Homo sapiens: one gene and its partners. The protein of the gene in region 5 purifies or fractionates together with the protein of the main gene of each other region. This does not show direct contact. Each region holds a gene or a part of one and is shown on either strand. Other genes may lie near its edges.

Evidence for each region.
Region 1: the proteins of FAH (region 5) and ALDH6A1 fractionate together in Homo sapiens (co-fractionation; one large-scale study listed by BioGRID). This does not show direct contact.
Region 2: the proteins of FAH (region 5) and ST8SIA4 purify together in Homo sapiens (co-immunoprecipitation; one large-scale study listed by IntAct). This does not show direct contact.
Region 3: the proteins of FAH (region 5) and TMEM63A purify together in Homo sapiens (co-immunoprecipitation; one large-scale study listed by IntAct). This does not show direct contact.
Region 4: the proteins of FAH (region 5) and LYPLAL1 fractionate together in Homo sapiens (co-fractionation; one large-scale study listed by BioGRID). This does not show direct contact.

Annotation. Positions count from the first base shown.
Region 1 is NC_000014.9:74,063,499-74,068,337, reverse strand, and holds part of ALDH6A1 (methylmalonate-semialdehyde/malonate-semialdehyde dehydrogenase [acylating], mitochondrial isoform 1 precursor), read left to right. Parts: intron 1-768; coding exon 769-958; intron 959-1,451; coding exon 1,452-1,633; intron 1,634-2,245; exon of another isoform or gene 2,246-2,977; coding exon 2,978-3,157; exon of another isoform or gene 3,158-3,417; coding exon 3,418-3,516; exon of another isoform or gene 3,517-3,549; coding exon of another isoform or gene 3,550-3,650; intron 3,651-4,839. UniProt on the Homo sapiens protein: Malonate and methylmalonate semialdehyde dehydrogenase involved in the catabolism of valine, thymine, and compounds catabolized by way of beta-alanine, including uracil and cytidine.
Region 2 is NC_000005.10:100,807,944-100,812,782, reverse strand, and holds part of ST8SIA4 (CMP-N-acetylneuraminate-poly-alpha-2,8-sialyltransferase isoform a precursor), read left to right. Parts: intron 1-653; coding exon 654-936; 3' UTR 937-4,839. UniProt on the Homo sapiens protein: Catalyzes the transfer of a sialic acid from a CMP-linked sialic acid donor onto a terminal alpha-2,3-, alpha-2,6-, or alpha-2,8-linked sialic acid of an N-linked glycan protein acceptor through alpha-2,8-linkages.
Region 3 is NC_000001.11:225,861,535-225,866,373, reverse strand, and holds part of TMEM63A (mechanosensitive cation channel TMEM63A), read left to right. Parts: intron 1-406; coding exon 407-477; intron 478-3,522; coding exon 3,523-3,603; intron 3,604-3,795; coding exon 3,796-3,919; intron 3,920-4,022; coding exon 4,023-4,156; intron 4,157-4,839. UniProt on the Homo sapiens protein: Mechanosensitive cation channel with low conductance and high activation threshold. In contrast to TMEM63B, does not show phospholipid scramblase activity. Acts as a regulator of lysosomal morphology by mediating lysosomal mechanosensitivity.
Region 4 is NC_000001.11:219,176,329-219,181,167, forward strand, and holds part of LYPLAL1 (lysophospholipase-like protein 1), read left to right. Parts: intron 1-2,818; coding exon 2,819-2,918; intron 2,919-3,071; coding exon of another isoform or gene 3,072-3,098; intron 3,099-4,839.
Region 5 is NC_000015.10:80,159,043-80,163,881, forward strand, and holds part of FAH (fumarylacetoacetase), read left to right. Parts: intron 1-713; coding exon 714-835; intron 836-1,367; coding exon 1,368-1,417; intron 1,418-3,203; coding exon 3,204-3,294; intron 3,295-4,839.

The DNA of each region.
Region 1 (4,839 bases), on a different chromosome or scaffold from region 5:
GTGCCATCTCAGCTCACTGCAACCTCCACCTCCCAGGTTCTAACAATTCTCATGCCTCAGCCTCCTGAGTAGCTGGGATTACAGGTGCCTACCACCACACCCAGCTAATTTTTGTATTTTAAGTAGAGACAGGGTTTCTTGGCCAAGCTGGTCTTGAACTCCTGACCTCAAGTGATCCACCCACCTCAGCCTCCCAAAGTGCTGGGATTACAGGCATGAGCCACCATGCCTGGCCTCTTTCTTGAAATTCTACATCAAGAGGTCTACTTTCTGTTTTGCCTTTCAGCTGGTTACTGGCATTATTGCTGTAAGGCTGTAAGTTCTTTTTTTTTTTTTTTTTAACATTGCTCTTCATATAACTAAAAAACCCAGCAGACAACAAATTCCTGTTTTTTGTTTGTTTGTTTGTTTTGAGACAGGGGTCTCACTCTGTCACCCAGTCTGGAGTACAATGGTGTGATCTTGGCTCACTGCAACCTCCGCCTCCCAGGATCAAGTGGTCCCCCTACCTCAGCTTCCCAAGTAGCTGGGACCACAGACTGGTGCCATTATGCCTGGCTAATTTTTTGTATTTTTTGTAGAGATGGTGTTTCACTATGTTGCCTAGGCTGGTCTTGAACTCCTGACCTCAAGTTATCCTTCTCACCTCAGCCTTCCAAAGTGCTGGGATTACAGGCATTAGCCACCACACCTGGTCCACTGCTTAATTTCTTAGCTTAGTTGTATTTGGCCAAGGAAGACTCATGTGCTTTCTGCATTTTTTTTTAGGGAGCCAAGAACCATGGGGTAGTCATGCCAGATGCCAATAAGGAAAATACCCTGAACCAGCTGGTTGGGGCAGCATTTGGAGCTGCTGGTCAGCGCTGCATGGCTCTTTCAACAGCAGTCCTTGTGGGAGAAGCCAAGAAGTGGCTGCCAGAGCTGGTGGAGCATGCCAAAAACCTGAGAGTCAATGCAGGTAATCAATCACCTGACTTGCCCCCTTAGATTTTGCATCTGTGGCATTAAGCTCTTGGGTTCTGTCACTGGCCTTGGCCAGTGGGAACAATCATGTCTATTCTTGCCATTTCCTCTCTTTATACTGTACTTGTCATTTGGAGTCATCTTGTTAGCAGTCTTTTTTTTTAAAGCACAGGCTGTCTGTTACCCAAGCTGGAGTGCAGTGGCACCATCCTAGCTCATGGCAGCCTCAAACTGTTGGGCTCAAGTGATCCTCCTGCCTCAGCCTCCTGAGCAGCTTGGACCACAGGTGCGGGCCACCACCTGGCTAATTTTTTTATTTTTTGTAAATATGAAGTCTCACTTTGTTGCCCAGGCTGGTCTGGAACTCCTGGGCTCAAGCAGTCCTCCTGCCTTGGCCTCCTAAAGCTTTGGGATTACAGGCATGAGCCCTGGCAGCAGTCATAATTTATGTTAATGAGGACCTTAAATTCTTCTGTGTTGTTTTACAGGAGATCAGCCTGGAGCTGATCTTGGCCCTCTGATCACTCCCCAGGCCAAAGAGCGAGTCTGTAATCTGATTGATAGTGGAACAAAGGAGGGAGCTTCCATCCTTCTTGATGGACGAAAAATTAAAGTGAAAGGCTATGAAAATGGCAACTTTGTTGGACCAACCATCATCTCGAATGTCAAGGTGAACAACTTTCACTTCACAAATATGAGAGCTGAAGGCACCTTAAAGGCTATAGAATCTCATCCCTCTAATTTATTAATGAAAATACTTAATGACTAAGACCTTATCTCTTGCCAGGATTGATCAATTATTTTATCTGGAGTCTGAATGAGCCTCTCCTTCTAACTCCCAACCAAACTCTTTCCACTATACCAGCAGTCTGCAGACTTTCCATAAAGGGATAGATATTTCCAGCTTTGCAGGGATATAGTGTCTGTTGCAACTAAACTCTGACATTGTAGTGTGAGATCAGCTATAAACATTGTGTGGCTGTGTTCCAAAAAAAATGTTATTTATGGACACTGATATTTGAATTTCATATCATTTTATATATGATTAATTTTTTTTCAACCATTTAAAAATGCAAAAACCATTTTTAACTTGGGGCTGTACAAAAACAGGCAGGAAGCCACATTTGGCCCACAGGCTATAGTTTGCCAAACGCTATCTTATCTTATACTGGTTTGTTAATGTTTTCTCTCCCCTCTCCCTCTTGCTGCCTAGCTTATGGCTACTGCAGTGTCTCAATCAATATATCAACCACCCAATATTTATTGAAAGTGACAAAAATAATTGACTTGTCAATTTTTATTTATCAAAACTTTGAAAGTCTCTCAGCTAACATGACTTAAAAATTGAGGTTATGAGGCATTTTTTGAAATTCATATATCCTTACTATAATAGTGAATCATCAAGTGTTGAATGTAAGTGCAGTAGAAATTATGAAATCTCTTGCCACAGAACCATACAGAAAAATCCGTTTATCAGCAACAAACATTAATTGCATGGTGAAGGATGTTTTGAGTGTCTGCGACCTGATATCAAAATATAAACATACAGACATATTTGGGAGGCAAAGGAGTGAATAAGAATGGATTATTTATGTTACAGAAAACAGCATGGGGTTTCTGTAAAGAGAAAAATTATCCTGGTATATTTACTATAGATTGGATTTATAAAAAATAAATTTTCATGTAACTTTTTGATAACAATTGGATGAAACTAGTCGTTCAGGTATTAAAAAGGCAGCTGATGATGGGTCATGAACTAAAGATACAGTCCCTTAAAGGAAGTGTGGTTATTGTTGATAGGAATTCCAAGTTGTTTATATGATTGGTAACTTGGAAGACGGAATACACTTGAGAGAGGACTTTTTTTTTAAATAGGTGATTTGAAATGAAAAGAGATTAGTAATATGAAAGTTGTCCACGTAAATGATGTGTAGTAAGTGAAAGTACCAAATAAGCATAAAATACTCAGAATCCAAAAAGCTGACTTCTTTTCTGGATGCATCACTCCTGGCAGCCAAATATGACCTGTTACAAAGAGGAGATTTTTGGTCCAGTTCTTGTGGTTCTGGAGACAGAAACATTGGATGAAGCCATCCAGATTGTAAATAACAACCCATATGGAAATGGAACTGCCATCTTCACCACCAATGGAGCCACTGCTCGGAAATATGCCCACTTGGTGGATGTTGGACAGGTTCGTGAACAGAATTTTTAAGAGATTCTTATATCCATTTACTATTTCCTAAGAGGAAACAGTAAATAATGGTGAGTCATTGGTTTAAGATTGCCCCCATGACCTCCCACATTGCCCCATTTCTTCCTCAGGAATGAAAGTTCATGGGGTAGAGGATAGGGTAGAAGGTGGGTATTTAAAACTGGTCTCTGATGCCTTTGTGTTTCTAAATGGAGAGTTCCTTTGTCCTTAGGATATGACACGGATTTGTTCTGTTTTAGGTGGGAGTGAATGTCCCCATTCCAGTGCCTTTGCCAATGTTCTCATTCACCGGCTCTCGATCCTCCTTCAGGGGAGACACCAATTTCTATGGCAAACAGGTAACTTTTGAGTTAAATTTTTTGTCTTTTCCTTTAAGAAATTTTCTTAAAGATATTCAGGAGCAAGGATTCTGCAAGGAAGGGACTGCCAGCAGCATCTGTGAGGTCATAATCAGTGCTTCTCAGAAGGTTCCCTAAAAAAGATTTAAAAGTTAACAAAATTTTGCCAAAGCTGCTTCTTCCTGAATAATTCAAAGCAACAAAGTTTTGAGGAAAGAGCATGGGGAAGTCTAAGCCTTTGTATATGCCATTTCCTGAGTGTGTGACCCTCTTCCCCATCTCTCCCCTTTCATCTGACTAACTCCTAATCATCTGTCATGTCTCACTTTAAAAAATGAGCTCCTCCAGAAAATCTCCTCCAACTACCACCACCCCTCCCTCAGTGCTGGGTAGTGTGACCCCAGTGTGTTCCCATTGCACGTATTTTTTCTGTAATAGTTATTCATTTACAAAAAATGTTGTTGAGCACGTTCTTTGTAGCAGACATTATTATTACTATTATTATTATTATTTTTTTTTTTTTTGAGACACAGTCTCGCTCTGTTGCCCAGGCTGGAGTGCTGTGGCATGGTCTTAGCTCACTGCAACCTCCGCCTCCTGGGTTCAAGCACTTCTCCTGCCTCAGCCTCCCGAATAGCTGGGACTACAGGTGCCTGCCACCATGCCTGGATAATTTTTTGTTTTTTAGTAGAGACAGGGTTTCACCATGTTGGCCAGGCTGGTCTTGAACTCCTGACCTTGTGATCCACCCACCTCAGCCTCCCAAAGCACTGGGATTACAGGTGTGAGCCACTCTGCCCGGTCTGTAGCAGACATTATTTTAGGCACTATGAATACAGCACTGAACAAGAAAAGTAAAGCAGATCTGGAACCAAATTGCCTGTGTTCAAATCCCAGCTAAGCCAGTTATTAGCTGTCTGACTTTGGGGGATACCATTAATTTTTTTTTTTTTTTTGAGACAGAGTCTCACTCTGTCGCACAGGCTGGGGTGCGGTGGCACAATCTTGGCTCACTGCAACCTCCGCCTCCCAGGTTCAAGCAATTCTCCTGCCTCAGCCTCCCAAGTAGCTGGGATTACAGATGCCCACCACCACACTTGGCTAATTTTTGTATTTTTAGTGGAGATAGGGTTTCACCATTTTGGCCAGGCTGGTCTCGAATTCCTGACCTCAGGTGATCCGCCTGCCTCAGCCTCCTAAAGTGCTGGGATTACAGGCATGAGCCACCACAGCCAACCAGGATACCTTCTTTATGCCTTAAATTTATTCACGTATAAAATGAATAACAATAGTACCTATGTATTTCATAACATTGTAAGGACT
Region 2 (4,839 bases), on a different chromosome or scaffold from region 5:
TATCAGCATTGAAATATATTTTATCTATCTAACAAAATGTTAAATTGCATAACTGGAAAACTATCAATTATTCTACAACTTTTTTTTATTGTTGTTCTTATGTGAGTGGAAGTGAGGCTTCTAATTTGCTTTAGTAAATTGTGACTTGGAAAATTGGAGCTGAATAAATCAGTTGATATAACATAGATAAAGCATTTATTTCTTTGGATTTTTAATTGCAATATCTTACATTTTGAAAATCTATAGGCATAGTTTCAAACTTTTTTTTCTGGGAGGATTACTTAATCTCTACCCAATTACCATGACTTCTGCAGTTGTATTTAATCCTTTTTGAGAAAATTTTACTCTGCATGTTATATAAATGTTTGCTATTATTCATTTCAAAGGTGAGATTCTAGAGTAATATTCACCTACATTCCAGGTCCCTTGGGTATTTATATGACCTCAAGAATAAGAAAGAAAATAAAGGATAAAGAAGAAATAAAATAAAAGCATCAAATTTTCTAAATGCTTAAAAATATTTCTTCAGTAATTCTTTAAAATATTATTCATAAAGATACCTTTTAAGTTTTCTGCATTATATACTTGCTATAGGATATGCTCTATGTGTGTCTAAATTCTTCTCTTCTTGATTTTGTTTTTTGTTTTTCCAGTTACTGGCTGACCAACAAAGTTCCTATCAAAAGACCCAGCACAGGTCTTCTCATGTATACACTTGCCACAAGATTCTGTGATGAAATTCACCTGTATGGATTCTGGCCCTTCCCTAAGGATTTAAATGGAAAAGCGGTCAAATATCATTATTATGATGACTTAAAATATAGGTACTTTTCCAATGCAAGCCCTCACAGAATGCCATTAGAATTCAAAACATTAAATGTGCTACATAATAGAGGAGCTCTAAAACTGACAACAGGAAAGTGTGTAAAGCAATAAAGCACATTTTGAAACAAACAATATGCACTTCTTTTCTGAAGATGCTTCCGAAGATTTGAAAATAGGATCCAAAACACGGCTGGGTTTCAGCATCCACCAATGAACTGAAAGGTGAATAAAGGACGTTCATGAGAAATCGACTACCAGCTGATGAAATACCTGCAAAGTGCTCTAAAAATTAAATATTTTGACTTTAAGGGTCCTAGTAAGTGCCACTTCCACTAAGAATACAGTTTGAATGTATAATCAGTAGTGTTTACAAGATCCAACAGTGCACTCATCATTAGTTAACAAAGCAAATATGTTCATCACTGTCAGGCTGCCCACAGCAACACCAAGCATATTAGAAGAGGAACCCCAGGAACGCAACTCAGACCTTGGGAAATTAAACCATCCTTGTCAGCAGAAGCCAAGATGGAAGCAGTTTGAGCAATGAAATCCGTAAGATTAAACAACTCAAGTAAATGCTTCAGTCAGGACTCTGAGTCTGATCATGAATTTTATGTTTTAATTTATGTTTTTTTTTTGTCTTCTGGAATCTCTTTTGGTTTGGATATTGGGATGCTTAGAAATCCTTTCTGAGATGCATATGAGTGAGGAAATAAACTTTAAGTAATTATTTTTAAAGTTCTTATACTTTTTAAAAGCTATCACACAAAGACTTTTTTTTTTTTTTTTGTCTCGCTCTGTTGCCCAGGCTGGAGTACAGTGGCGCGATCTCAGCTCACTGCAAGCTCCGCCTCCCAAGTTCACTCCATTCTCCTGCCTCAGCCTCCGGAGTAGCTGGGACTGCAGGCGCCTGCCACCACGCCTGGCTAATTTTTTGTATTTTTAGTGGAGACGGATTTTCACCGTGTTAGCCAGGATGGTCTCAATCTCCTGACCTCGTGATCCACCCGCCTTGGCCTCCCAAAGTGCTGGGATTACAGGCGTGAGCCACCGTGCCTGGCCGACATTTTTAAAAAAGTTTTATTTTGCACGGCTCTAAACCTCCATGTTATTTTCCAGTGGTGTAGAAGGTACCAGCTAAAGTGAACCACTATGTAATATTAGGCCATTCTAAAGGAAAGATGTTCCATGTCATCAGAGATGGTAAAATAGGCCGGGAAAAAAAAATCTTTGGTACCAAAGATTACACTTGTGTTTCTACACAGCAAACCATTTTTCTTTCATGAAAATAATATATTATTAACATGAATATATTATTTTGCTATTAATGTGAAAGTTGTCTCTAAATATTTTTTAATTTTCAAACTCATACTTTATTTTCATTTGAAATGTTTTTCACACCTTTTGCATTACATAATAATTTTGTGGAAGCATTTTGCCCTTTAGAATAAATATTAGATTGATATAGCTGAAATGTGACTTCCAGTTCTTTGATATTCCCCTTGTTATTCAAATAGAAATATGGAAATGCTTTATATATTACTGTTAAATTTCTTAGTGCAGAAATAACATTATTAATAGAGTATTGTTTTCAAAACAGAGATGATTAATTTCAAGAGGTTTAACAGTGAAATTGTGTCAATATTTTGCATTTAAAATGAATTTAATTGACCGATATTTTCTGTAGTTAAATTTAGTCACAATATCACATATGTTCTTCAAGAAACACATGAAATTATTAATAAAGTAATTAAAAAATTTTTAATGTATAACAGAATTGACCAATAGGCCAGTTTTCTGGTAACTTATGATAGTAGATTGTTTCTTTAGAAACTGGGCAGAAGCTCTGCATTCTCACTTGTACTTTGATTTCTTATTTCTTGGGCAGGCAATTTGAGGAAAGAAGAAATGGCATGGGGAATATATATGTTTTGTTTCTTAGGGAAAACAGTCTGAGAAATGAATAAAAAGCATGAAGTACGTGTGTGTGTGTGTGTGTTACCATGGAAAAGGATATTCACAGTAGTACAGTTCTCAATATTTTTAATTAGATGTCATATTTTTTTAATATAGTAAAACCTTGGGATATAGAATATTACATCTTTTGAGAATGTATGTGTCTCTAAGTAAGTAAAATCTAATGCGTATAGGAGACTGATAGCTAAAAATGAATGGAACATTAATGTACTTTTATAATTAAACCTCTTATCTATCAGAAATTGTAAGAGAATAGATACATGTTTTGAATGTAAAGTTGAAAAGTCTGGTTTACTTAATAAATTGAAAGTGATTTATAAAATCTAAATTTGGACTACTTGCAAATGATAAGCTATTCTAGTAGCCTTTAGTTTAAATCCAACAGAAATCTAGAAGTCACAAGCAAATATCTTAAAGGTAAAATCCATCTGGGCACTCATTTAAAGTATATCTTAAAAAAGCAGCAGCAAGGTACCTTGCCATTTTTAGCATATTTTCTTCCTTTTTCTTTTTTCTTTTTTTTTTTTTTTTGAGATGGAGTCTCACTCTGTCACACAGGCTGGAATGCAGTGATGCCATCTCAGCTCACTGCAACCTCCACCTCCTGGGTTCAAGTGATTCTCGTGCCTCAGCCTCCCAAGTAGCTGGGGTTACAGGCGCCCACCACCACACTCGGCTAATTTTGTGTTTTTAGTAGAGACAAAGTTTCACCATGTTGGCCAGGCTGGTCTTGAACTTCCTGACCTCAGGTTATCCACCCACCTCAGCCTCCCAAAGTGCTGGGATTACAGGTGTGAGCCACCGCAGCCGGACCATTTTTAGTATATTTTCAGTAAATACATTTAAACAATGTTAAGGCCACAGCACACATATCTCAGCCATTCATTGTTCTGTGCATTGATGTTTATCTCATAGATGCATTGAGTAGTGCCTTTTTAGCTTTTTCACATTACTTTGTCACCATATCCTTTGTGTTCTCTAAATACATTGCCCACTTCCAAAAATGTTCAGCATGAAAAAAAGGGCTTCAGTGTCGATTGAGATTGCTTTTGTTCATCTCAGGGATTTCAATAGTCAAGAATGAATTCAGTTAAAGGTATTTAGGGTTCAAAGAAGACAAACTGTACAAGCCCATTTCATTCCTTGTTGTATACCTTTCCATCTGCCCTCCCATTTTAACTATCTACTGTGGCCTTTTTATGGAAACAGAGCAAGATCAATGAAGGCTAATGGCAAGAATAAGAAAAAGAGTTGAGATTTAACCAATAGCGGAGCATAAAGGATCATGACAAAATCAAATTATAAAAGCATACTTGAAATAGGTGGAGCTTTTTCTTTTGAAAATATATATTCACAATTTTAATATTTTAATTTATTTTTTACTATTTAACCCTGTACTTGGCAATGCTCAGGCAGCTGATTGTGAAATATTCTTGTCCTTTACAGAACATGGTTGTTATTGTGCTGTTGACATGAATAGACCATGGAAACATTTTCATCATTATTATTCAGCCTGTGCTGTAGTTAATGTTAAGTTGCTGAAATAAAAAGTGAGCAAGTAATAGATTTTCTTGGCAAATCTAATGATTCAGCCCACAGGACTGTTGAAACTACTGCGGAAGTTTTTCTATCTGAAAGAAGGTGCTGGGCATTCAAATGTGTTCATGTATTGTATATCATATGAATTGTATATCAATTACTAATGGGAATTTCTACATATATGCTTACAAAAGCAATTTATTTAAGTAATGCTAGGGGTAGTGTACATACCAATTAGTTATTCAGCTACTATACAGAAAAAGGATGAACAAATTAATTTATTTCTAATTGAGCCAGTTAGACATAATGCATATAACGTGATATTTGGTTCATGAAAGAGTTGTTTTCATGTGGTTATTGTAGGGAGTATATATAATTGTGGAAGGGGTATGGGAAGAGTTGTGTATAGTTAGTTGTTATCTCTACAAGTTTGAAAGTTTTCCCATCAAACATTATCAATATACCAATGTTTTAAAAATTGAGTGAGGGTTATTATTT
Region 3 (4,839 bases), on a different chromosome or scaffold from region 5:
GACAGTTACTGGTGCTAAGTAAAGAAATTTGGGTTGAGAGCAGCCCTTTCTCTTTGCCGCCCACAGCTTCACAGGGGAGGGGAGCTTCTGTGGCTTGGTTCCAGGCCTGGGTCCTCCTCTGATCTGCTGTGTGACCGCATTTGAGTCACTTCCCCTCTTTCTCAGTCTCCTGCCATGCAAAGAAGGCTCATAGAGTTGCTTTGGAAGTGGATTCTTTGTACAGCCTGGAAGAAGACGCTGTGTAAATGACATGCTTTGGGGGCTCCCCCGGCCACAGAAGGAGAAAACTGGAGCCTTCTGATTTCCTGTTGTTTACTTTCCAGAGGCTGGAGTTGGGTAGGAAACCTGAGCATACCGGCACACTGGCTTGTGGGTGACTTCTCTCCCTGCTGTATTTCCCGGACAGGTGAGGCGGACCCTGTTCATCACAGGACTCCCCAGAGATGCCAGGAAGGAGACTGTGGAGAGCCACTTCCGGTAAGCAGGTGGGGTGGGAGGGGAGCTGAGCCCCCTCCACGTAGGACCAACACAGCCCCACCCGCAGGGCGAGCACCTTAGGTGAGCGCCTTCTGTCTCTCGCTTGGGTATCCAGGTGAGATCTGAGAAGGACCTGGCCCTGCCACACGTGTATGGAGTGGCTCCTGTGTGCCAGCCCTGCTGGTGCTGTGCAGTGAATAGCGCCCTGGTGGCCTATCCTCTTCAAGCAGCCTGTGCACAGTGTCCAGAGCACAGACCAGGGTGTAGGTGCGAATAAACGTCTTGAGAGCATACGGGGGAAAAAATTGTTGACCCCGGGGTTCTTAGCATCACCTTTGCAGAATAAGAGAGACGTGAGCTGAGCATTTGTATGGACCCACAGGGCTAGGGTCTCACAGGTGGAAGGACCTCGGGGCCATCTCTGCGTTTGTTCGTTTGTCCACCCACTGAGCGGGTGTCTGTTGAGTGAGCACTGTGTCTGAGTCCAGGCTCTCCCTGGTAGAACCTCCTTTCCAGCGGCTCCCTTTGAGTATCTGCACCACCAATTCCTGCAGATGGAGGCTGGAGGAAAGTCTTTCCTGTGAGGAGATTACGTGTGCAGCCAGGGATGCGGGGAAAGGCCCAGAGCATCAGGAAAGGTGGCGGTGGGGTGCAGGGGGGCAGGGCAAGCAGTCCGGGAAGGCTCCCAGGACCCCATGCTGGAGGACCTGAAGGCTGGGCTGAGGAGCTGACATTTTATTCTTTCTTCATTCCTTTTTTTGTAATCTTATTTTTTTAGAGACAGGGTCTTGCTCTGTTGCCCAGGCTAGAGTTCAGTAGTGCAATAATAGCTTACTGCGGCCTCAACTCCTGGACTTAAGGCATCTTCCTGCCTCAGCCTCCCAAGTAGCTGGGACTGCAGACACATGGCACCACACCCAGCTAATTTTTAAATTTTTTATGGAGATAGAGTCTTGCTATGTTGCCCAGGCTGGTCTCGAATTGCTGGGCTCAAGTGATCCTCCTGCCTTGCCCTCCCAAAGTGCTGGGATTACAGGCGTGAGCCACCATGCCCGGCCTCTCTTCATTCCTTATCAATACAGCAGCCACTAATTTGTTGCATGGACTAGGAGTTGGCTGCACTTTAACTTTGCACTATTTGTGAAGAAAGCACTTGCTAAGCAAATTGCTAGACAGGATCGTAAACTGAATGTTTAAAATTTGAAAAACTTCTTCAGAAACTCTAAGTATTTTAGAAATATTTACTAATATGTAAATACTCAATACCAGAATCATTTTTCTGTATTTCCTTGAAGCAACTCCTCAAAGTTGCCTGCTAGGCAACACCTGGAAACAGTAATTCCACTTAATGTATAACTTTAAAGAGAAAAAAAAAGTCTCCTCATTCTCATACAAACATTGCATGACTCATGCTTTCCCCTATTTTAAGAGGCCTTTTTAGTGAATGCTGTTGCAGTCCGTGGGGATTGATGTATGAATTTGCCTTTCAAGCAGGGATGCTTAAATTGCAGTTTTCTTCCTCACAGCTCTTATTGAGACCAGAAATTGTCCTACTGTTTAATTTCATGATTGATATACCTATGGGCTGTCTCTCTCACTAAAATGTAAGCACATCCAGGCCCTGTTACCAGCACCTAGAACAGTGCCTGGCAGGTGGTAGGTGGGGATTTACATGGTTCTGGAATCCCCTGGAATTGTATGTATAATTTTGCGTGTATGGTGAGGGGGTATTGCATGGTGGCCATGAGCATTGACCTTGGAGCCAGGTTGCCTGTATTCACCTCCTGGCTCAGACACTCACTAGCTGTGTGATCTTGGGCACAAGCCACTTACCTCTGTCGGCCTCAGTTTACTCATCTGTAAAATGGGGACAAAACCTCACAGGTTATGATGAGGATTAAATAAATAAATATATGTAACAATACCTGGTCAATAGTGAGTATGTATTTTGCTGGGTTTTTTTTTTTTTTTTTTTTTTTTTTGAGACGGAGTCTCACTCTGTTGCCCAGGCTGGAGTGCAGTGGGGCAATCTTGCTCACTGCAACCTCTGCCTCCCAGGTTCAAGTGATTCTCGTGCCCCAGCCTCCCAAGTAGCTGGATTACAGGTGTGTGCCACCACACCTGGCTAATTTTTGTATTTTTAGTAGAGACAGCGTTTCACCACATTGGCCAGGCTGGTCGCAAACTCCTGACCTCAAGTGATCCACCCGGCTCAGCCTCCCGAAGTGCTGGGATTACAGGCATGAGCCACCGCACCTGGCCTTGCTGGTTGTTAATATGTGTGTAGATATTTTCTGGTCTGAGGGTCCTTTGCTTTCATTAGACCCTCTGAAAGGTCTGTGACCTTAAAAAAGGCTACCTGAATAGGATTTCAGTGATGGCTCAAGGTAGATACTGACCTAGCACAAACAATAAATCTGTTCCTTTGGGTCTTTAGAGGGGATAGTGATGTGTTCATTTTTCCCCAGGAGAAGTGCCAGCTGATTCCAAGCCAAGTGGGTATAAACTTGTCAGTTCCAGGCAGTTAGCTTCATACTACTAAAAAAGGCTAGCGGGGTGCAGTGACTCACGCCTACAATCCCAGCACTTTGGGAGGGTGAGACAGGAGGAGTGCTTGAGGCCAGAAGTTCGAAATCAGCCTGGGCAACATAGCGAGACCCCGTCTCTACAAAAAATAAAAATCAGCCTGGTGGCATGTGCCTGTAGCCCCAGCTACTCAGGAGGCTGAGGTGGGAGGATTGATTGAGCCCAGAAGGTTGAGGCTACAGTGAGCCATGATTGTGCCACTGTACAGCAGCCTGGGTGACAGAGTGAGACCCTGTCTCTAAACAAAACAAAACAAAACAAAAGCCCTCTTTGTATTAAATTTCAAAATTTCCCCCTTTTGGAGGATAAAAGACAAAGAGAAGAGAGGTCTCCGCTGGCACAGAAACCAGCAGCGAGATCACTCTGCCATCCTTTCCCTTGGATCCGTGGGCACGTCTCCTGCTTGGGGTGTTTTCTTTTCCAACGGTGTCTTTTGCCTCCTTCTCTCCCTGGCCACAGGGACGCGTATCCCACGTGTGAGGTGGTTGATGTGCAGCTGTGCTACAACGTGGCCAAACTGATCTACCTGTGCAAGGAGAAGTGAGTGGTGGGCGGGCCTTGCAAGATGCCCCCTCCTTCCTTGCTGGCCTCGCATCTCCCAGCTAGGAAGGGAGGCGGGAGGCCCTGGACCCCTCCTTCTCCCCTGGCGTTCGATGGTTGAACTGTGGGTATGGGGGTCCCTGCCACAGGATTCTAAATCTGAGGTTTGTGCCCCCGCTCCCACCCCTACAGAAAGAAGACTGAGAAGAGCCTGACCTATTACACAAACCTGCAGGTGAAGACAGGCCAGCGGACCCTCATCAACCCCAAGCCCTGTGGCCAGTTTTGCTGCTGTGAAGTGCTGGGCTGTGAGTGGGTAAGGGTCCCACCCCCCGGCTGGGAGCAGAGGCATTGGCATCGGGGTGCCCCAGATACCAGCATGGGGCCACGTCATCCCAATGGGATGTGTCTTGTGGCAGGAAGACGCCATCTCTTACTACACACGGATGAAGGACAGGCTGCTGGAGAGGATCACAGAGGAAGAACGCCACGTCCAGGACCAGCCCCTGGGAATGGCCTTCGTCACCTTCCAGGAGAAGTCCATGGCCACCTAGTGAGTGTAGGCACATCCAGACCCCTTCTTGGCTGACTCCCTGTTCCCCTCCAGATAACTCACTGTCCCTCTCGAGTGGAGATGGTACTGCTGACCCACCATCCCTGGGATTTATCTGTGGTGTTTCCTTCTCCTCCCTCAGCTACCCACACTCACTTTCAGCCAGCCCAGCCCATGTTTGTGTAACAGGCGGTGGGGGTGTGGGCAGCAGCCACGGAGTGGGTGATTCTGGCTGACCCCCTCGAGCTGATGTGGCCTGGCCCCACTGCTGGGCTCTTCCCTGCTGCCCTGGACCCATCCTGTTGGCTTCATGTGCCAGCCTTGCCCCAGGGGAGATGGAGGCACCCTCCTTTCAGACATCTGCTCTGGGCCACAGATCCTTCTGTCTGTGGCTCCCCACCTTCCCACAAATGCAAAGCTGTGGGGAAGACCCCTGGGGCACGCTGGGGCGCTCACTGCAGTGGGGAGCTTGACCCTGGGGAGTGGCTTTTCACAGTGGCCCTTGGCATGGGACTCTAGGCTCTCATGCCTGTGGTCTCAGTGTCATCTCGCCTTAGGAGCAGCACAGGGTGGGTCGGGAGAGGGGTGTGGAAAGGTGTCCAGCCACTGCCCCAGGCATTGTGACACTAGGAATGGACTCACACAGGACTTCCTGCCTCCTTGCAGACACTGGGGCAGGAGGA
Region 4 (4,839 bases), on a different chromosome or scaffold from region 5:
TAATGTCTGTATTCCACACTAAGCTAGTAGGTCCACAAAGCCCAAACCATGTGTCTTGTTTATGGCTTTCTTCTTGTGTGGTAAGGCTCAGCAAGTTGACTGAGTAGCTTCTTGGTAAAGTCACCAGTAAGCTCAGGCTCTATGTCGCTCAATGTAATGGACATTTTCAGTCGTCCTCTTACGTGAACTGTCATCTGCATTCAGCTTTCTTCTCAAAAAACTCTCCTGGTTCTTTTTCTGTCTTGATTTGCTCCTTCTGGTTTCTTTTGCAGACTCATCCTCCTCTACCTGGCCATTAATGATGGGGTTTCTCTAAATTTGGTCCAAGGTCTTTTCACTCTACATTTTTCTCCCTAGGCTAATCACAGAAGTCTCCTAGAGATACCCATTTGTGTCACTGGTGTATAGGTAAAAATAGAACCTTTGAATTTCTGTGGAGATTCATAGATTCTATTTTTGAGCTCTAGACAAGTTCATCTAACTGCCTGATAGACATTCATTCATGAATCCATTCATTCAAGAAATATATCACAGCCTCCATGTGTAAGGCACTGTTCTGTGCTCTGATCATACAGCAATGAAAAAAACAAATCACTGCTCTCATGGAGCTTATGTTCTAATGAAGTAAATAAATACTATAGTAGAAGGTAGTAAGTTTTATGGAAACAAGGAAAGCAGGATAAGGGGATTCTTCCATGGATGAGAAGTTGGAACAGTGTTACAATTTTAAATAAAGTAGTCAGGTTATGCCTCACTGCAAAGATGACAGAAGATGAAACTTCACAGCTAGACTTAGACTTGGCTTTAAAGCCAAGTCGGAGGCTCCAGGGTAGGGTCCTTGACATGTTCAAGGAACAGCAGTAAGGCTAGTGTGTCTGGAGTGAGAAGAATAGGAAGGGATATCCAAGAGGGTACTGGCATCCAGGTAGTGTAGGGCAGGGGTTGGCAAACTTTCTGCAAAAAGTCAGGTAAGCATTTTAGCTTTTGTGGGCCATGTAAGGTCTCTTCCCCATAGTTTTCCCTTCTCTCTCTTTTTGAGAAAGGAGTCTTTAATAATGTAAAACTCATTCTTAGCTTATCCTCCTTAAGGACCCTAGGCTGGATTTTGTCCTCCCCTCTAGCTGTCCATAGTTGCTCAATCAACCCATGGTATAAGACCTTGTATGCATTACAAAGAGGCACCTCACACTCAACCTGTGTATGCCTGTTGCTTATGTTTCCTGTCTAGGCAGGTGTCTAGTATTGTTCACCCAGTTACTCCGGCCAAAAGCCTGTTAGTCATCCATGAGACCTTTTACTGTTGACCCTTTATAACAAATCCGTTGCCAATCTCTATTAATTTTACCACCTAAATTTCTCTAGTATCTGTTTCTATCTACATCATCGCTGTAGTCTAAGCATGAACAGTAGTTTCCTAACTGATCTCTGTACATCTACTTTTGCTCTCTTTCAATTCTGTCTTGACACAGCTTCCAGATTGATCCTTTAGAATCATGCCAACCTTTCTGTCAGAAATATTCATGACTTCTTCATGAACAGATTTGTCACGTTCCTACAGTTTCTCTGGTCTCATTTTATAGACACTGCTCTTTTCATTCTCTGCTTTTCAGTTCTTACATGTCATACTGCTCCCTCTTATCCAGAATCCTGGCACCTGCCCTTTCCTCGCCCTGGGATACTTTTTTCTTCTGCCCTGCACTTCTCACCATCCTGTAGACTTTAGTTCAAACCATTCAGCAACTATATTTGGATACCCAGTTTTTGTCAGTCCTGTTCTAGGCACTATGTGAACAAATAACTCAGATAAAATACATCATAAACTTCCTCTTGCAGAGTTTATAGGCTAGTGCATTTATTGTTGAACTCCATAAACCCAGTCAGTTGTGAATAAAATAAATATTTGCAACACCAAGTGTCTCATTTTTGAAGCAGGTACATTTGCCTTTCACATTTATTTGTGTGATTTTTTGACTAATTTCTGTTTTTCACAATATGCTACACACTCCATGAGAATAGGGACTCTATTCCTCCCTCACCCCACCATCATTGCCTCTCTAGCAGTGAACACAGTGCTTGACACATTAACAGGGATTCAATAGGCAGTTTTTGAACTGATACCTTAATGAGTTAATTGATTAAAAAATTAAAGTTGTGACCTTAATTTCCTCCTCAGGACTCCATAAGATGGACTTATATTTCCTTCCATTTTTTTCTGTAAATACATATACATTAATATTTATATGGCTTTTTATTACTTACCAGCTTTGGAGTAGATAATTCTTCTTTTAGGTCATGTAAACATGTTGTCAAAATTAAATTATGATTTTTTCAAGTTAAAATAAAATTACACTGAACACACATTTTGGACTTTTTTTAACCAAGAAAATTAGGTTCTTCTAACTACAGAAGTTTAACAGTCACTTTAGGAATTTATTACTATTAAGAATATGATAAGAAATGACTATTAAAAGTCACATATAAATACAGAAATAAAATTTTTTTTAGAAAAATCAATTTATTTATTTATTCCTGTACTACCCACTAAACAAATTAGGTAACTTAAAACTTAAGCTTAAACAAGATCTTCAGAGTAATCAATGGTGAAGCCAGGAGTAAAATAATCAAAATTATTGCTAGTTATTGAGACCTAGTTAGTTAATTCATATTAGTAAGTCAGTTTCTATATGGTTATTATGATGTATGGAGCTTTTTTAAATCCTTTATTCCATCCTCTGTGTGACATAAAAGTTTTAGACTGCTTTGAAATGCATTGTATTACTAAAATATTTATTTTAATCTAGATTTTTTGATTCATCAGGTGATTCTGGACAAGGATTAAGAATGTGGATCAAGCAGGTTTTAAATCAAGATTTAACATTCCAACACATAAAAATTATTTATCCAACAGCTCCTCCCAGGTATGCAGTAATTTATCTCACTTGTCAATATAACTCTGTGGCATAAAATATATATAGAGAGATGTGCCAGCTAGGTGTTCTTTAAGCTTAATTTTGTATTTAACATACTTTAAATTAGAGTACTTTGTCCCCAGAATGTATTCTTTATTGCAGTTACACTGTTGGACCAAGTTTTGCCAGGTGAGTAATTTATTCCCTTTCTGTAAAGCATTCCCTAAAGCTCTGAATTTAAACTGTGTCCCAAGCATGGCTTATGTAACTCTGCTTCCTCTTGCCCTGCAGATTGCTCAACTTTCATACTTCTTCCCTACATTCACCCCAAAAGGAAACTTAATAACTCCAACAAGTATAATCTTTCTAATAATTTAGTTAAGCCAGAATTCATAATCTCTGGGAAAGGGTTTTATGGCATTCTTTCCACATTTAAAAGGATTATCAAGAAACAATGTTATGCTTTTTTAATCAGTAAACCAGAATAGGAAGATAGAATTGACTACTTAATAAATATTTAGGTTATATAACCTGTAGGTGTGTGCAAAAAATTCACAGTAATAAAACTGCTATAGTTTTGAGGTCAAACTACTCTTTGTAAATATTAAATTAACATCTGCATAGTCTTTTATTCGGAACACATGCCGTAAATCAGGGATTGGGATTTTTTTTTGGTTAAGTGAAATGATGTGTGGAGCTACGCCCCAATCTGATTTTTCTCATAATCTGTTCTTGATTTTTTTTTGTTTCTTTTTCTTCTTCTTTTTTTATTTTTTCCAGACAGAGTCTCACTCTGTTGCCTAGGCTGGAGTGCAGTGGTGCAGTCTTGGCCCACAGCAGCCTTTGCCTCCCAAGTTCAAAGGATTCTCCTGCCTCAGCCTCCTGCCTAGCTGAGAATACAGGCATGTGACACCACGCCCAGCTAATTTTAAAGACAAGGTTTTGCCATGTTGGCTAGGCTGGTCTGGAACTGTTGACCTGAGGTGATCCACTCACCGCGGCCTCCCAAAAGTGCTGGAATTACAGGCATGAGGCACTGCACCTGGCCTGTTCTTGATTTTTTTCTTATCAGGCATACTATGCAAATGCCTTGCTTTATATTTTCATTAACTTAGTATTAAGGAGAAATAAAACCAGAACTTCAAGGACGTTTTTATATGTACTAATAAGAATTTACTTACTTTAATTGATAGAATTGAAAAAGGGAGAACAAAATGATAATGTAAGACTGAAGACTCAAAGGAGTTATTATTTAAATGTAATTTTAATAGAGTTTAAAAGTTTGGTAATCTAGTTAAAAGACCCAATCACCAGTGGTTATTTTTGTGCTATAAATTGCATGTCTTTGAAAATGTCAAAAAAGCTTCTTGTTACTGATTTTTAGGATAGTTGAAGTTGGAAGGAAGAAACATAGTGGTATTTCTGCAGGGATGAAAGATAAGTTCATTTCTACCTAAATATAAATACAATTGTCTGATTAATCATAAGACCACTGAAAACCTTATTCTAGGAATTAATATTTTTTATCTTAAGAATTTCATGTCATTACCAATTGTGATAGGAATTCTAGGCAGTATTTCTCAAACTTTAGGCCAGAGTTATTTCAGAAAATCCAAAAATCTCCATGTGCACTAAGCATTATTTGTGGGTGCTGTTGTGATTTAGTAAAATATGAAATCATTGGACCAGCTTCATGGTAACTTTTTGTTACACAGTTTTATAACCAATAGCTATTTGAACAGATCATCGAACGTTTTAGACCATACTCACCAATAGAAATGTAATATGAGCTACATATAAATTTAAATGTTCTTGATACCACATTATAAAAAGGAAGAAATACGTAAGATTGATTTTAATAATATATTTTATTTAACCCAGTATATTCAAAATATTCAACATGTAATCGGTATAAAATTATTAAAGTGAT
Region 5 (4,839 bases):
GCCTGGCCAACATGGTGAAACCCCCTCTCTACTAAAAATACAAAAATTAGCTGGGTGTGGCAGTGCACGCCTGTAATCCCAGCTACTCGGGAGGCTGAGGCAGGAGAACTGCTTGAACCTGGGAAGCAGAGGTTGCAGTGAGCCGAGATCACATCAGTGCACTCCAGCCTGGGTGACAGAATGGGAAAAAAAAAAACAACTTTTTTTTTTTAATAGAGATGAAGTCTCACTATATTGCCCAGGCTGATCTTGAACTCCTGGGCTCAAGTGATCCTCCACCTCGGCCTCCCAATGTGCTGGGATTACAGGCATGAGCCATCACACCTGGCCCAAAACCTCTTCTTAACTGATGTGAAAGGAATTAGTTTAGGCTGTGATCACTCTGCAGACTGGAGTGTGCCTCTACTGGAAGAACATGGCCACCTTCAACTGTGGGCCGGGCCAAGCTTAGCACAGTTGCTGTGCCAGGTAGCAACTCCTGGGCTTGGACAATTGTGTGCAGGTGCACGAGGGCCTGAGGCAACGTCAAGAGAGGATATGCTTTTCTCCAGGTTGATGAATAAATGACAAAACTAAGAGCAGAGGTCCTGAGAGTTTGAGTTAGCGGGAGAGAAGTGGCAAGGGCTGGCAGGCTGGCTGGCCTTCCATTGGAAGGAGGGATACTCCCTGGGTTTTCCTGTACGTGATCTTTTTTCTCCCTGTTTTGGTCTTAGCCTACACTCAACAGCTTCATGGGCCTGGGTCAGGCTGCCTGGAAGGAGGCGAGAGTGTTCTTGCAGAACTTGCTGTCTGTGAGCCAAGCCAGGCTCAGAGATGACACCGAACTTCGGAAGTGGTGAGAAGCACGTGGTCATAGGGGGGATGAGGGGATGCAGCAGGGGAGGTGAAGGCTGTGTGGTTATCAGTGCCATTCTGAGTCACGGCTTGGCAGCCTTAGTGTGGCCAAGTCAGACCTGCCCTCATCCAGCCCCTGCCTGAGCTGCCTATTGATGGGAGGGCTTTGGGAGGACTGGGATTGCCTTGGCGCCTGGAATGGAGCTGCCCAAGCTAGGCCAGGCCAGGCCCATTGGCCCTCTCTCTTACTCAGGCTGTCCTCATTAGCATCATCTGTGACCTCATCTGGTTTCTAGAGTAGGAAAGAGTTTCCACTTGTCTAGTCCCATTTCCTAGGGTAGAATATAGAAACGGCTTCAGTGGGTGGATGTCCTCTCAGCTGTGAAAGGTTCAGCATAGCTCTGGCCCCAGGCCAGCCAGAAGGTGCCCACTGGAGATTGTGGATAATCTTGGGGATGGTCTGGGCTGAGCCCGTGGGTGGGACCGCGCTTTGCTGCCTACTTGACTTTGAAGCCCCTGGTTCTGTGTTTCAGTGCATTCATCTCCCAGGCTTCTGCCACGATGCACCTTCCAGCCACCATAGGTGAGTGCAGTCTCTTCACCAAGATAAGAACGGAGCAGCTTCGTGGGCCAAGAGGGCTGGCCAGGTGCTTTGGTTCTGCATCTGTGTGGAGGGTCCCTGCTGGTGGGGGGAGATGGAGGAGGGGCTCTGGGGCTGTTACCCGCTCCTCATCACTGACCTTTCCCAGCATCCAGGCCCGGCATTCACTCAGGCTATTATCTTGCCTCAGGTAGTGAGTTGCAGACTGCTCAAGTTCATGACTAGCCGCATGGCTCCCTGCACAGCAAATTGCTTTCCTTCCCCCAAAGGCTATGGGACAAATTCTCTGAGCTCAGTCTGTGAGTCAGCAGTTTTGAGGATAGAGGCCAGAGGGCTATGAAGGGCCCCAGTTTGAGCACGTGGCAGGATGTCTGGTTGGAGTGTCATTCAGGAAGTTGGAGCTGTTGAAACTCTCAACCTGAAGCAGAGAGAGAGGCTGGCTCAGCCTGCGGCCCAAAGCACAGCCCTCTTCCTTGTGCACAGGTCTCCTCTGCTGGGCTACCTGGGCACCTGTGAGCTGAGGGGCCAGTTGACCCTGCCCCTGGGGTACACTGCCTCTCTGGAACAGCTCCTGCTGTCCGGGGAGAGTCCTTTGCTGCTGGGCTGCTTGGGCTAAGCTGACTGGAGGATGGGGTTGGGGACAGGGGCCGAGTCACCTGCCTCCTCCCAGCCCCTCTCACTCCCCACTCTCATACACTCATGGGACTGTGCTATGTTTTGGCAAACCAGCTGTTGTGCAAACCATATGTCTTTCAGGGATATCATGTCTGGTTGACTGATGGTGCCCTTTCTTGTTTTTTTTTTTTTTTGTTATGGATTTATTCTTTTGAAAAATCTCTCAGCTATTACTTCTGTGCAATGGGACTGAAGATGGGAAGCAGCAGCTAAGGCTCCACCTGCCCTGTGGACTGTTCTTCCTCTCCTCACCCTTCACCATGACTGTTGCTAGTCTAGGCTGTTGGTATTGATGAATATCCAGCATTTTTTTTTTTTGAGGAGACATTTAGGAAGATAAAACAGGCAGACTGTCCCAACTGGTTTTTCTTTCAGATTTTTAATTCTCCGAATGGTAGATATGCCTACAGCTTGCTGGCTAGCCCATTCAGTTCATCATAATCAACAAGCACTGATATGCATCTGCAGTGTGCAAGCCCTTGTCCTTGGCACTCGGGCAGAGTCCAAGAAAATGAGGACTGGGCTGGGGCTGTCCTGGAATGTCCACAGTCTAGCAAAGATGTGCACACACATAACTGGAGCACCAGTGGGAAGCGAAGCCTGCCCCAGAAGGATTCAGGGGAGGGGATTTGGAGGGGGAAGAGATCCTGCTAGAGAGAGCAGGGAGGGCTTCAGGGAGGAGCGGGCCTCAAAGAGTTGCCAGGATTTGAATACACAGGGACAAGGGAGAAGTCAATCAGTATAGGCGTGGTGAGGGAGCCTGTGGGAACTCGGGAATGGCAGTTGTGTGTGGGAAAAGTGGGGAGCCTGAGAAGGGAGGTGGTATCAGCCACTTGGTGTTCACATTCCACTGTCAGTTTCAGAAAGTCTGGACTCCTGATTTCTTATTTGTTTCTCAGCTGAGGGCTCTAAAAACAAATCTTCAGTGAGGATATTTTATATTGCATTTGGTGCTGCCATTGCTGGCTGCAGGCTGAGCTCTGGATGTGTAAACAGTATTGTGTGCACACTCGTGGCTCCAGTGCTTGGAACAGTCCATTCTTCCTGAGGCATGTGGGTTGCTGATGGGATCTGTTGGGTCTTTCCTCTGCAGGAGACTACACAGACTTCTATTCCTCTCGGCAGCATGCTACCAACGTCGGAATCATGTTCAGGGACAAGGAGAATGCGTTGATGCCAAATTGGTATGAACTGGGCCAAATGTCTGCATAAGTTCAAAGTCTTTCTTTTCATTTCCAGCAGCATATTTGTCTCAGGAGCTGCCAAGTTCTTCTTAAAGTAAACTGGGGAGGAAAAGCAGTTATGATGTTGCAACCTCTGGAAGCAGTGGTCTCAGCTTCTGGTCTCCTGCTCAGCTTGGCTTAGGACTTGCTGTGGGATCGAAGGGCAAGTCCCTTAAACTTCCTTGGACAGCAGGGGTTGGAATTAGATTCCCTTAATCCCTATGCTCCTTCTGGAGTCTTTCATTTATAAGCTGTGTATTATTGTACTATGGGCAAGTCTTAGACTCTAGCATGCTCCATACTTACATTTTCTGATGAATGAGAATCCTCAAATGTGCCCAGTGCTGTATATTCCTCAACATGTGATCGGTTTCATTCATTTGTTTGATCCTCGTAGTAGTTCTCTGATGTCACAAGGCCATGATTGTAAGCCCCATTTTACAGACAGGAAAATGGGCTCAGAGAAGGATCAACTTGCCTGAGCACAACAGGGCCACAGCCTGTCTCCCAGCCCCCAGATCAGGCCATTGACCAAGCTGAGGATGCAGAGCTGGGATCCTTGCCCTTTGTTCTGTGTTGTCCCCTGGATGTGATGGTTCCTTGGAACTGAAGAGGGCCTGGACTCAGTGGCAGGCATACACTCCAGGCCCCAGTGCCATCAGTCACACACAGGAGCTGGGTTAGGGACGGGGCTTTACTCTCTCTCGAGTGAGTGTCTCCAGTAGGCTATGCCATGAGGGGAGGGTCTGTTAGAACCAAGATGAGGAAGAAAGAAAGGGAGAGAGAGCAGTTCCAAGCCAGAGATGTTGAACAACAAGGCCAAGGTTGCAGAATGAGGCAGGGGTGAATCTGAGACCAGAACCCAGGCTCCAGGTTCCAGGCTTCCACGTGAGATGCGCAAATATTTGAGAATCTTGCACTGTACAGGCTCCAGGCTGTATTTGTCCCCAGCCAGCTTCAACTTGTCTATCTGATGGGCTGAGTGTCTATATGAGTGTCCTTGGCAGTGATGACCCAGTGGACTGCCCAGCCCCAGAAGAGCTGGCTGTCACCTGTGTGCCAGGATCCCAGTGGCCAAAGGGCAGGGGCACCAGGAAGTGAGAGGAGAGCCGGGACCTGGGAAATGAGTGTTGACTGTGTCTGAAACCGAGTGTGGGGGCCGCAGCCATCCTTGCCCCATGTCCTTCTGCAGAATAAGAGTAAACAGGCCTTCTCTAGCCATGTTTGATGCAAGATGGCCCACAGCTGTGACTTTTTAGCTTTATGTACATAGTCTTTATTATAAAGGTAACATATATTTACTGGAATTAACCCAAACACTACAGAAAATATGTAAACATTTACAATTAAAAATGTGTCTACTCTTTGACCTGCAATGCTCACTTTCATGCATCTATCCTACAGAAATAAAAGCACCAGTGGGTTGTATCCAAGAGCAAGGATGTTAATTAGCAGAGTTTCTAGTGGCCCAGAACTGGAAGTAATCTGAATGCTTATCGGTGGAGG